Homo sapiens: one gene and its partner. The protein of the gene in region 2 interacts with the protein of the main gene of each other region in a pairwise test. Each region holds a gene or a part of one and is shown on either strand. Other genes may lie near its edges.

Region 1 (5,330 bases), on a different chromosome or scaffold from region 2:
TTCCCAATGTGTGCCCCTTTGTTCTGCTCAGGCGTGTGCTTCACGTGGCACCTAGACAGCCCCACTGTTAGGTCAGGACCCCTCTAGGAGGGACCTGCTGGCCCCGGCCTGACAGCCACATGGGCAGATGGTGCTCTGGCCCGGTCTCTGGTCTGTGAGCAAAACCTTGCTCCATTCATTGTTCGACCGTGCTGTGTTTCCCTTGGCGGCTCCAATACCAAGATCCAGAGGCAGAAAGTGGTCAAACTCAGTAGCCCTGATCATACGAACACATGCTACTCACTTAGCAGTTCTTACTTTTGTTCTTTTGTGATTTACCCATTACCCCTGGATTTCTCTCATGTGTCTGCGTGTCCCCACCCCTGATTTTAATCTCTCCAGCCACACAGAGATCCGCTTGGCTCCCAACCGAGCCGGGCCCCTCCCGTCGCCTTGAGGCCTGCGCAACAGCAGGTCTAGCTGCAGGGGAGCCCTCAGCATTTCCTTCTGGGCCCGCCCAGAATCCTGGGTTCACTGAGGGAAGATGATCGGGGCAGCAGGACTTTCTCAACACACGCAGCATCTGGTGCGGGTGACACAGGAGGATGGGTCTTAACTGCGAGGCTGGGAAAGGACAGGAGGGGCTGGGGTGAGGCCCAGAGGCACACAGCAAACACACAGCTGCACTGACTGCCCTCGCCCAGCACTGAGCCCCAGGAAGCTTGGGGAATCTGTGGGGCAGGCGGGGAGTTTGGAGGCCGGGCTTCCTGGGAGCGCTGGGGACAACCTCACACAGTCCTTGGATGGGGCATCCTTGAGGCCGTCCCAGAAGCGGCACGCATGCCCTGGGGTGCAGGAGCACGGAGCTGGGGGCCCCGGGCTCACCTGCGATGGTTCTTTCTGGGACCTTGGACTCTTCCCATCTTCCTCCTCACCGAAACTCCAGTCCTGGGGTTCGACCGAGTCCAGAGATACCAGAACTGTGCGGGAGAAAGGGATCGTGAGAGGGGCCTGTTCTTCCCAGAGCCCCCAATTCTCCAGGCCTTCTGGGGAGGGCAGACTTTCCCCGAACATCCCTGCAGCACCCCTGAGGCGCAGGCAAGAGTGGCTGCAGGGCTGTCATTCTGTCCCTCCATGTGGCTGCTGGGCAGGAACCTGTGGTGACACCGAGGGCCGCTGAAGACAAGTACCCTCTTCACTCATACTCCACACCCCTGTGCGCCTCCAGAAGCCCACGAGGACACACACTGCAGCACTGACTAACTAGGGAGGCCCGAGCACTGTGAGCCCTCTGCTCCCCAAGCCCCCCGGGGCTGTGTGCACAGAGTGCACAGAGGACGACTGCTGAAGCAGGGTTCAGGACACCATTGACAGAAGGGTCAAGACGTGGGAACCAGGCCAGGCGTGGTGGCTCACACCAGTAATCCCAGCACTTTGGGAGGCTGAGGCAGGAGGACTGCTTGAGCCCAAGAGTTTGAGAGCAGCCTGGGCAACACAGCAAGACCCCCCCCTATTTATTTTTTAATTAAAAAAAGAAAAATTCAAGATCACGGCCACCTCTGGGGTGTCAGGCAGAGCGGGGGACAACAGGACTAGGAGACGTGCATGGGGGTTCAGCTGATTCCACTGGTTGTTCCTTTTTTTTTTTTTTTTTTTTTTGAGACGGAGTCTCGCTCTGTCGCCCAGGCTGCAGTGCAGTGGCGTGATCTTGGCTCACTGCAAGCTCCGCCTCCTGGGTTCAAGCGATTCTCCTGCCTCAGCTTCCTGAGTAGCTGGGATATAATATAGGCACGCGCCACCACGCCCGGCTAATTTTTGTATTTTTAGTAGAGACGGAGTTTCACCATGTTGGCCAGGCTAGTCTCGAACTCCTGCCTTGTGATCCGCCTGCCTTGGCCTCCCAAAGTGCTGAGATTACAAAGCATTTCCTAGGTTGGGCTTTGATAAGGGTGGGTGGCCGGTGCAGGGCTGTTCATTATACTTGCTCTACTGTTTCATAGGCTCAAAATATGGAATGTAGAAAGCAGACCACCGCTATGGAAGACAGATAGAGAGCCCTTTGCTCAAAAACGTTGAATTTTGAGAGTGACCATGGAACATTAAAACTAGCAAGGGTGGCTCTGGGCTGGGATGGCTGTGAGGTCCACAGAGCGCCAGAAGCCAGTGCTCTTGGGCCCTCTACCCCAGGATCAGAGAGTTCAAAGGGCCAATTCATCTGGCTTCTGCCTTGCAGCTTACAGGGCTACCCTTGAGCCTCTGGAAAGCTCAGCTGTCACAGCTTTCCTAAGTGTGGCACCGGCTGCCCTGGGGCAGTAAGGGGACCCTGGACCCTGTGTTCTGCAAACTGCTTATCACTGTTGGTCTACGGAAATGCTGTAGTGGGAGGGTGCAAAGGGAGGGCCTGTTCCTCTCCCTTGCTCCACCCCTCTTTTCTGTGAGCTCTGATGCAACCCTTCTCACTCCCAGCCTTTGCTCCTGCAGCGTGGCTGCCTGGCACCCTCCTTGCTGGGGCCCTGCTGGGGAAGCCCTCCCGAGGCCACAGTGCCACGACTGCTCTCACCATCCGTGGCTGCCTCTTTTGGCCTCCCAGTGTCCAATCCCTGCACTTTTGTCACTAGGAAAGAAAGAGCCCCACTCATGGGACTGGGCCCTGGGTGGATGGAATCTCGACGTGGGGTCACAGGGGCAAAGATGCAGAAGGACAAAGCCCTGTCAGGGGAGAGGGGAGCTGAGAGAGGAGACAGGGAGGGAGCCCAGTTTCAACCCCAAATTTCCCAGCTCCCAGAGTCGGGATGCAGACCTAAGCGTCTCTCCCCACCATCAGCCAGCGATGGGGCCTGCGCCCTGTGAAGGCTTAAGGATCTCTAGGATTCCTGAGTGTTGCAGGAGGCGCTGCAGGTGGCTGGGAGGAAGTGGCGAGGCAGCGTCCTTCCCAGAGAGCAGCCGTGAGGAGCAGCAGACACAAAGCCACAGGACAGATGGACGCATGGGAAATGGAGGGATCTTTAATCACCGACTGAGTGAGAAATTCGAGGCAGATGAGGCGTGCAGCACATTTATATGTAAAAATAATTAAAAACACAGCCGCGGGGCAGGAGAGGTTTGCTGGTCGGGAGGGGCCGGGCAGGGGTGGGAGCGATGTGGGCGGGAAGGAGGGCAGTTCGGTCCTCGGAGACGTCAGGCCCCCTGGCCCGGCCCGGGGCAGGAAGCCTGCGCCTCTCACCTTCCTGCTGGCACATCTGTGTGAGGTCCTCCACCAGGCTGGCGGCCTCCCTGCAGCTTCGGGGGCCCTGTGACTGCACCCAGGTCCGCATCTTGCTGGGCAGCGCGCCCAGGAACTGCTCCAGCACCAGCAGCTCCAGCATCTGCTCCTTGGAGCGCGCCTCGGGCCTCAGCCACTGGCGGCACAGCGTCCAGAGCTGGCCCAGCGCGAGGTGCGGCCCGCTCGCCACGTGGTACTGGAACTGCCGGAAGCGCAGACGCTGGGCTTCGGTGTCCCTGGGGCTTGCTGGCCCAGGGTCTGCGTCCTGCTCACTCGGGGTTGGGGTCTGGGGGCGTCTGGGGGAGGCAGGGGCTTTGGGCCGTGGAAGCATTTCTCTGGCCACAGTGCCCCTCTGAGGGGTGTGTGTGGACTGGATCCCGAGTCCCAGTGGCTCCGGACAGAGCCGGTGTGGCAGGCGGACAGAATCAGCAATCAGGGGCCTGCAGAGAGGGGCAGGGACAGAGGGGTCACATCAGATGGTGGCCCTCTGTACTCAGGATGCCCCTCGGCTCCTTACTTCCTTGTTCTGACCTCCAGCACCCCAAGGAACCAACCTGACCTCTTCCCACCTTCTGACCTAATCTTCCACATGCCTCTCACAGGCTACTTTGCACTGAGTTCAAGCCACTGGCTGCCCCAGGACCTTTGCACCTGCCATCCCACCCCAGCCCCTCCCCTTCCCACCCCAGCTCCTCCCCTCGCAGATGTCCTGGCCATCATCCTTATGGCACTGTCTTCATAACCTCCATGACTTTCTGAACACAACTTTTCCCCTTACTTAGTGTCTATCTCCCTCTCATTTAGTCATTCAACACACATTGACTGACGAGCTGCGGGAACAAGAATGCCTGCCCCGTGGTGTGGCCAGCACTGCCCAGTGAAGTTCCTACAGGGATGTAAAGATTCTCTACCCATGCAACCACCTACGTGTGGCTAGGAGCACCTGAAATAGGAACTGAATTTTAAATTTAAATTCCATTTAAATGGAAGCAGCCAGGTGGGCTACATAATAATGGATGACACCACCACCAGCAGCAGGTCTACCCATGGTGTTATCTTTGCTGTCTTCCTGACTTTCCTACCAGGTCCAAGCTGGGGGTGGAGACCAGGAAGAGGGCAAGGGAGACTGGAGACTCTGAAAAGAGAGGGAAAGTGGGAAGAGTAATTTTAAAATAACCTTTTGTGGCCGGGTGCCGTGGCTCACACCTGTAATCCCAGCACTTTGGGAGGCCCGGGTGGGTGGATCACCTGAAGTCAGCAGTTCAAGACCAGCCTGACCGACATGGCGAAACCCCGTCTACTAAAAATACAAAAATTAGCCGGCGTGGTGGTGCACACCTCTAATCCCAGCTACGTGGGAGGCTGAGGCAGGAGAATTGCTCCAACCCAGGAAACAGAGGTTGCAGTAAGCCAAGATCGCACCACTGTACTCCAGCCTGAGTGACAGCGTGAGATTCCATCCCAAAAAAAATAAATAACCAAAAATGAGTTGGGCGTGGTGGCACGCACCTGTAATCCCAGCTACTCGGGAGGCTGAGACAGGAGAAATGCTTGAACCCAGGAGGCGGAGATTGCAGTGAGCTGAGACTGTGCCACTGCACTCCAGCCTGAGCGACAGAGTAAGACTCTGTCTCAAAAAAAAAAAAAAAAAAGAAAAGAAAAAAAAGAAGTTACCTTTTGTACATTTTCCAAGCCGACTATGGTGAACATATAACTGAAGAAAACATTAAAAGTTGTAAAAATAAAAATAAGCAGGGAGGTTTCGTTTGTTTGTCTTTAACAATTGTACTCTGGACTGATCCGCTGGTGAGAATATAAATTGGCACGACCTTTCTGGAAAGCACTGTGGCCATTTATATATCAAGAACACTTGGTAGACTGCGTGCAAGATGCGAGATTCAGGCACCAAGATTCACTACAAAAGTGCCCAACAGTTGAACGTGGTGGGATCAACTACCTCCCCCATCATGTGATGGGAGTATTCAACCGTGCCCAGTACACAACACTATGACATGACCACGGGGAGTAGACACATGATGTACAGATGACATGAGGCACAGGGAACGTGGGATGCAGGATGATGCGTGAG
Region 2 (5,330 bases):
AGCCACTGTTGTAAGGACAGTGATGAACATTTGACTTGGTCTCTGAAGAGAATGGGAGTGGTAAACAAAAACAAACAAAAACAAACAAACCATATAGGATTATTGGTAATCTTGAAGGCCCAGATGAAGTGAAAGCCAGAAAACAATACCAATTTCATTTTGGAGTATTTACTATCCCTGAAAATTAATATAATGGGGGTGCTAATGCTAATTTTTAAAACCAAGGTTAGCTCAATGAATTCTCCTTTTATATAAACTAGTACCATTCACTCATTAGGATACCTACATAACTGCAAAATAATTCAAAGTACACAGAGACACCCTTTAAAGATTCATCATATACTTAGACGATATGATTCATACCACTTTCCTGTGGAAACACTCAAATTATTCACAATAAATAGAATGCAATCTTACAAAGTTGATGGCAGCACCAAGTGAAGATGGGTGCTTCCTTCAAAATACTTGATTTAGATTCTGCCATCTTATTCACATAGAACCTAAGAAACTCTTTCCGTAATTAAGCAGTAATTCACAATATATACATCTCTGAGGCACTTGTTGTTTCAATAGATGGTTTGTTCCTCTCCGTAATTACAAAGACAATGAGCCCCAAATAAAAAGTATCCTACATTTTTAGTGACTCAAGATACACACAACTCAATATAAAATTCATATTCACTAGAGCTACAAATCATAATCACTATCAGAAAATTCTATAATAAAATTTACATTCACTTCTCCTCCTACTAATCTTACATTTATCAGCATACTAACTAAGCAGAGTGTGGTAATTCCACATATTTGGAGCTCCTCTAAGCCAGTTTCTGGAGATACTCTAAGATATGGTTGGATTTTCTGAGAATGAAATGTTTTATACTTTATGAGGAACCCAACCAGACAAAGAAGTTTACTATGAGTCTCTTCCCTTATTCCAAGGACTTTGATTTCTGATGTTTGCCTCCATATTGTGTAACTGTAGCACCATGGAAAACACAATACATGTATTATTGTAGTAACATTACAGAGTTTTATCAAGAATCTCTGGAAAATAGATAATTTTGTTGTTTGTATACTGTCAGAATAATTTTAATAATGTACGATTCAGTAATTTTAAACAGGGAATCTGGCTGAATTAAATGCAGGTAAAACATAGTTACTCATATCCCATAGATAAGCCAAATAAGATATCCCATAAATGTCTTAAAACTTATAAACTATAATGGTTAGGTTCAACAATTGTTTATAAGGGACTGCAGTGGACCCTTTAAATTGAACTTCAGTGATTTGTCCATATGTACAAGAGCATCAAAATCCAGGGTCTCATTTCATGACAGCGTGTCTAGAAACTCATCTTACTAAGAATACAGAAGACTCTGAAAAGGTTGTCTTGTGATGCTTGAAACATATTCATAGTTGATTTATGCCAGAAAAGGGGACACTGAAAGTATTGTCATCAGCAGTTACGGGCTTCCTCTTCCAGTTAAGCTGTGGTACATCTCTCCGACACACACTGTACTTGACAACACTTGTGGTACATCAGTCTTGTTTGACAATTTTGTTCATCTCCCTTTTTTCTTTATATTAAGATGATCATCCATCTTACAGAAGCACCCATAGATTAATATTGTTATGAAAACATTCCTTATGTTTAGCTGACTCCTTGTAGACAAGCAGTCATTTTCATGTTTCCATTGACTTATTTCCAAATTACATTGCAAAGGAGATTATTTTTTTCCAACACGGGAAATTAACTTGATATTAATAGTATGGAGGCTCTTGTGTGCTTTCATAAGATAAGGCCTTTATTTATCTGCCTCCTGAAAGTGACCTGGGGCACTTCAGCCTAGTCTTGAAGTACATATTCTTTTGGGCCTCTGCAATCGCATGTTCATATTTTGAATCTAGTAACAGAAGACAAAATAGGAATTTATTTTTATTTTTATTTATTTATTTATTTATTTATTTATTTATTTTAAAGACGGAGTCTTGCTCTGTCTGAGCGGTTCAAGCAATTTTCCTGCCTCAGCCTCCCTAGTAGCTGGGATTACAGGTACACGTTGCCATGCCTGGCTAATTTTTTGAATTTTAGTAGAGACGGGGTTTCGCCGTGTTGTCCAGGCTGGTCTTGAACTCCTGAGTTCAGGCAATCTGCCTGCCTCGGCCTCCCAAAGTGCTAGGATTACAGGCATGAGCCAACCGCACCCAGCCAGGAATTCTTTTTGAGTGCTTTAATTTTTGGTCTTTAGAATTCTAGTGCTCAAGTTATGAAATGGAGGAGAATGTCTATTTTTACACTGAGTAACTCACACATTCCTTCTCAATGAGGGAAAAAACATACTTGTCTAAAAAGATATATACTAATTCATTATATGTGTTAATAATGAAAATAGTAGAACATGTCTGAGAATGCCTTTTCAAGGCCTGCATAGGGATGGAAATCTGAATTAAGCTTTGGAATTGCAAACGTCAGAATTGAGACTGCATTGATAAGCAGAAAAGCAAATAATGCTGACCTGAGATCTTCAACCTTCTCTCCTGTGGCTTTCATGAGTCTTGAAAGGAGACTGGTGCTTACTAAGACCACTGATTTGTACTAAGGAGCGTTTGCATCTGGTGTCTTCCCTTGTGCTGAAATAGCTCTGAGTAAATGCTTTGATTCCCTCATGATACTTATGGGACTTTTTTTCTAATGTGTCTTTTCCTATGTCTAAAAAGATTTGAGCTCTGACTAAAGGCTTTGCCACAGTCATGACACTTGTAGGGCTTCTCACCAGTATGGGTTCGTCGATGCTGAATCAGAATTGCGCTTCGGCTGAATGCCTTTGCACACTCGTCACATGCATAAGGTTTCTTTCCACTGTGGATTCTCTGATGTAAAATAAGGGCTGAGCTCTGACTAAAGATTTTGCCACATTCATCACATTTCTGTTGTTTTTTCCAAGAAGGGTTTCCTTGTCTCTTTTCAAACCTACCATCTTGTTCATAGGTTCCTCTATATGTGGAACTCTGGGAGCCATTCATATGAAGGATATTGGAAACATTGCAATGCAGTTCTATGCCTAAAGAAGTCTTTTGCCTTGAAGCAGATTTCACATTTGTAGTTTTGATGTCTTCATCTGAAATGGAAAAACAAATGTCACCAGGAAAGAGAAAGGATGATCCAAATGAAATATACATGATTATTGCTAGCATGTTTATAAAACAACACACAATGTGAAGGACGGAGAGTGTAAGACAAAATATTGAGAAGTTTATATAAGACATAGAGAAAGGTTTACATACTGAGGAGGCAGTCAACTAAACTGTAAAGTTGCAAAGTTCTATGGAAAAGACAGAATAGGGAATAAGGATAAAAAGATATGTCAGAGACTAAGGAAAGTCTGGAAGGAAAGAAAGGGCTTAGAAAGAAGAAATGATTGGAGACACAGAGAGCTAGAAGGAGAGGAATCCAATGTGCCAGTGGGAGTAACAAACAAGATTTAGTACTGGAGTATCAATAAATAAATAAAGCTTAATATTCATAAAGGAATCAGTAACTATGCAAAGAAATGAGCTGAAGAAAGCCAAGGGGCCAAAAAGGAATGTGGAAAATAAAGTAAGAAAATATAAGTTAGGCCAATAAAGGGAAGATTATAGACTAGGATAACTAGTACCTCAAAAGATCAAGGGTAGCAGAGTACCCACTGATGAAAAACCTCTACTCCTGTATGGATTTTATATTACTGGTTGAATCGCTGTTTGTTGTATTATTTTGTATTACATTTAACATCCATGAAAAACGTACATGGCTGCTTATGGGCTGCGGCCACTCAGGCGGCACACAAACCTGGCTTGATGCAGAGGGCCTTATGACTCAGGGTGCCTAAAGCTCCAGCAGAACTGCTAACTCAGATGTGAAAATGCCAGTGTAATGTGGTTGCATTACCTGAAGAAATCACTTCAGTTATCCTCATGGTGGCATTTTTTTTTTTTTTTTTTTTTTTTTTGAGACGGAGTCTCGCTCTGTCGCCCAGGCTGGAGTGCAGTGGCGGGATCTCGGCTCACTGCAAGCTCCGCCTCCCGGGTTCACGCCATTCTCCTGCCTCAGTCTCCCAAGTAGCTGGGACTACAGGCGCCCGCCACTACGCCCGGCTAATTTTTTGTATTTTTTAGTAGAGACGGGGTTTCACCGTTTTAGCCGGGATGGTCTCGATCTCCTGACCTCGTGATCCGCCCGCCTCGGCCTCCCAAAGTGCTGGGATTACAGGCGTGAGCCACCGCGCCCGGCCCATGGTGGCATTTTAACTGAAGCTGCTGAAAGACAGGAGCTTAAAATGAGTTTATAAAAGCAAAGTACAACAGTTTTGGACATGTCTGGGGAGATGACTTGGCTGGGGCTGACTGTGACTACTGGGGGTGCCTTTATCTGAAGTAATTATATAAATAAGATTAAAAGCAACCCAGAGAGGTACTGATGATAAGTGATTCCCTGGGCCCTCTCAAGGCCTAATGAAAAGGTTAGGGTGAGAAAGGTAGTCTGGGGAGAAGAATTAGTGATGCAATGTGATACTGAATAAGAAAACTGAGTTGTTGTTTTACTCTTTAGAATTTACTTAAAATGGATCTACCTGCTGTCTCTACAATCTCCTTAGAATCACCCAACATAAGCTCAAATCTTAACATAAGCCCTTCCCAATTCCTTCTTAATGACACACCCCATAGTTTCTGTGCCGTGTTCTCTTTCTTGCTGCAGCAAACTAAATAAACCTAACTTGAAAAAATATATAAAAATCAAATCAAATGGGTCTAAATAGTTATTACAAAAGGAATTTAAAATTATTTATTGTATTTATTCACAAATATGGTGTCTCAGTCCATTTTCTGTTGTTTAGAATAGAATACCTGAACTTGAGTAATTTATTTATAAAAAGAATTTATTTCTTATAGTTATGGAGGTTGAGAAGTCCAGGGTGGAGGGGTGCATCTGGTGAGAGCCTTCTTGCTGGTGGAGACCCTCTGAAGAGTCCTGAGGCAGTGGAGGGCATTTCATGGTGAGGGGGCTGAGCATGCTAATATGCTAACTCAGCCCTTTCTTCCTCTTCTTATAAAGTTACCAGTTCTCCTATGATCACCAATTAACCCATTAATCCATGAATGAGTTAATCCATTTATGAGGGCAGGGGTGATAATTCAATTACCTCTCAAAGGCCTCACTTCTCAATACTGCCACACTTGGGATTAAGTTTCAACACAAGTTTTGGAGGAGACAAATATTCAAACCATAGCATATGGCATACTCATTTATTATTACTAGTTTAAGTGGAAATCATTTTATAAATGGTAAGGAT

What was found. Proteins that work in one complex are often made in the same cells at the same time.
Region 1: the proteins of ZNF396 (region 2) and ZSCAN1 interact in a two-hybrid assay, tested with the Homo sapiens proteins (one large-scale study listed by BioGRID and IntAct).

What each region holds. Positions count from the first base shown.
Region 1 is NC_000019.10:58,036,079-58,041,408, reverse strand, and holds part of ZSCAN1 (zinc finger and SCAN domain-containing protein 1), read right to left. Parts: exon of another isoform or gene 4,927-5,330; coding exon of another isoform or gene 4,916-4,926; intron 3,682-4,915; coding exon of another isoform or gene 3,573-3,681; coding exon 3,203-3,572; intron 960-3,202; coding exon 865-959; intron 1-864. UniProt on the Homo sapiens protein: May be involved in transcriptional regulation.
Region 2 is NC_000018.10:35,366,542-35,371,871, forward strand, and holds the end of ZNF396 (zinc finger protein 396), read right to left. Parts: intron 3,120-5,330; coding exon 2,674-3,119; 3' UTR 1,905-2,673; coding exon of another isoform or gene 1,810-1,904; 3' UTR 153-1,809; downstream 1-152. UniProt on the Homo sapiens protein: Isoform 1 and isoform 2 act as DNA-dependent transcriptional repressors.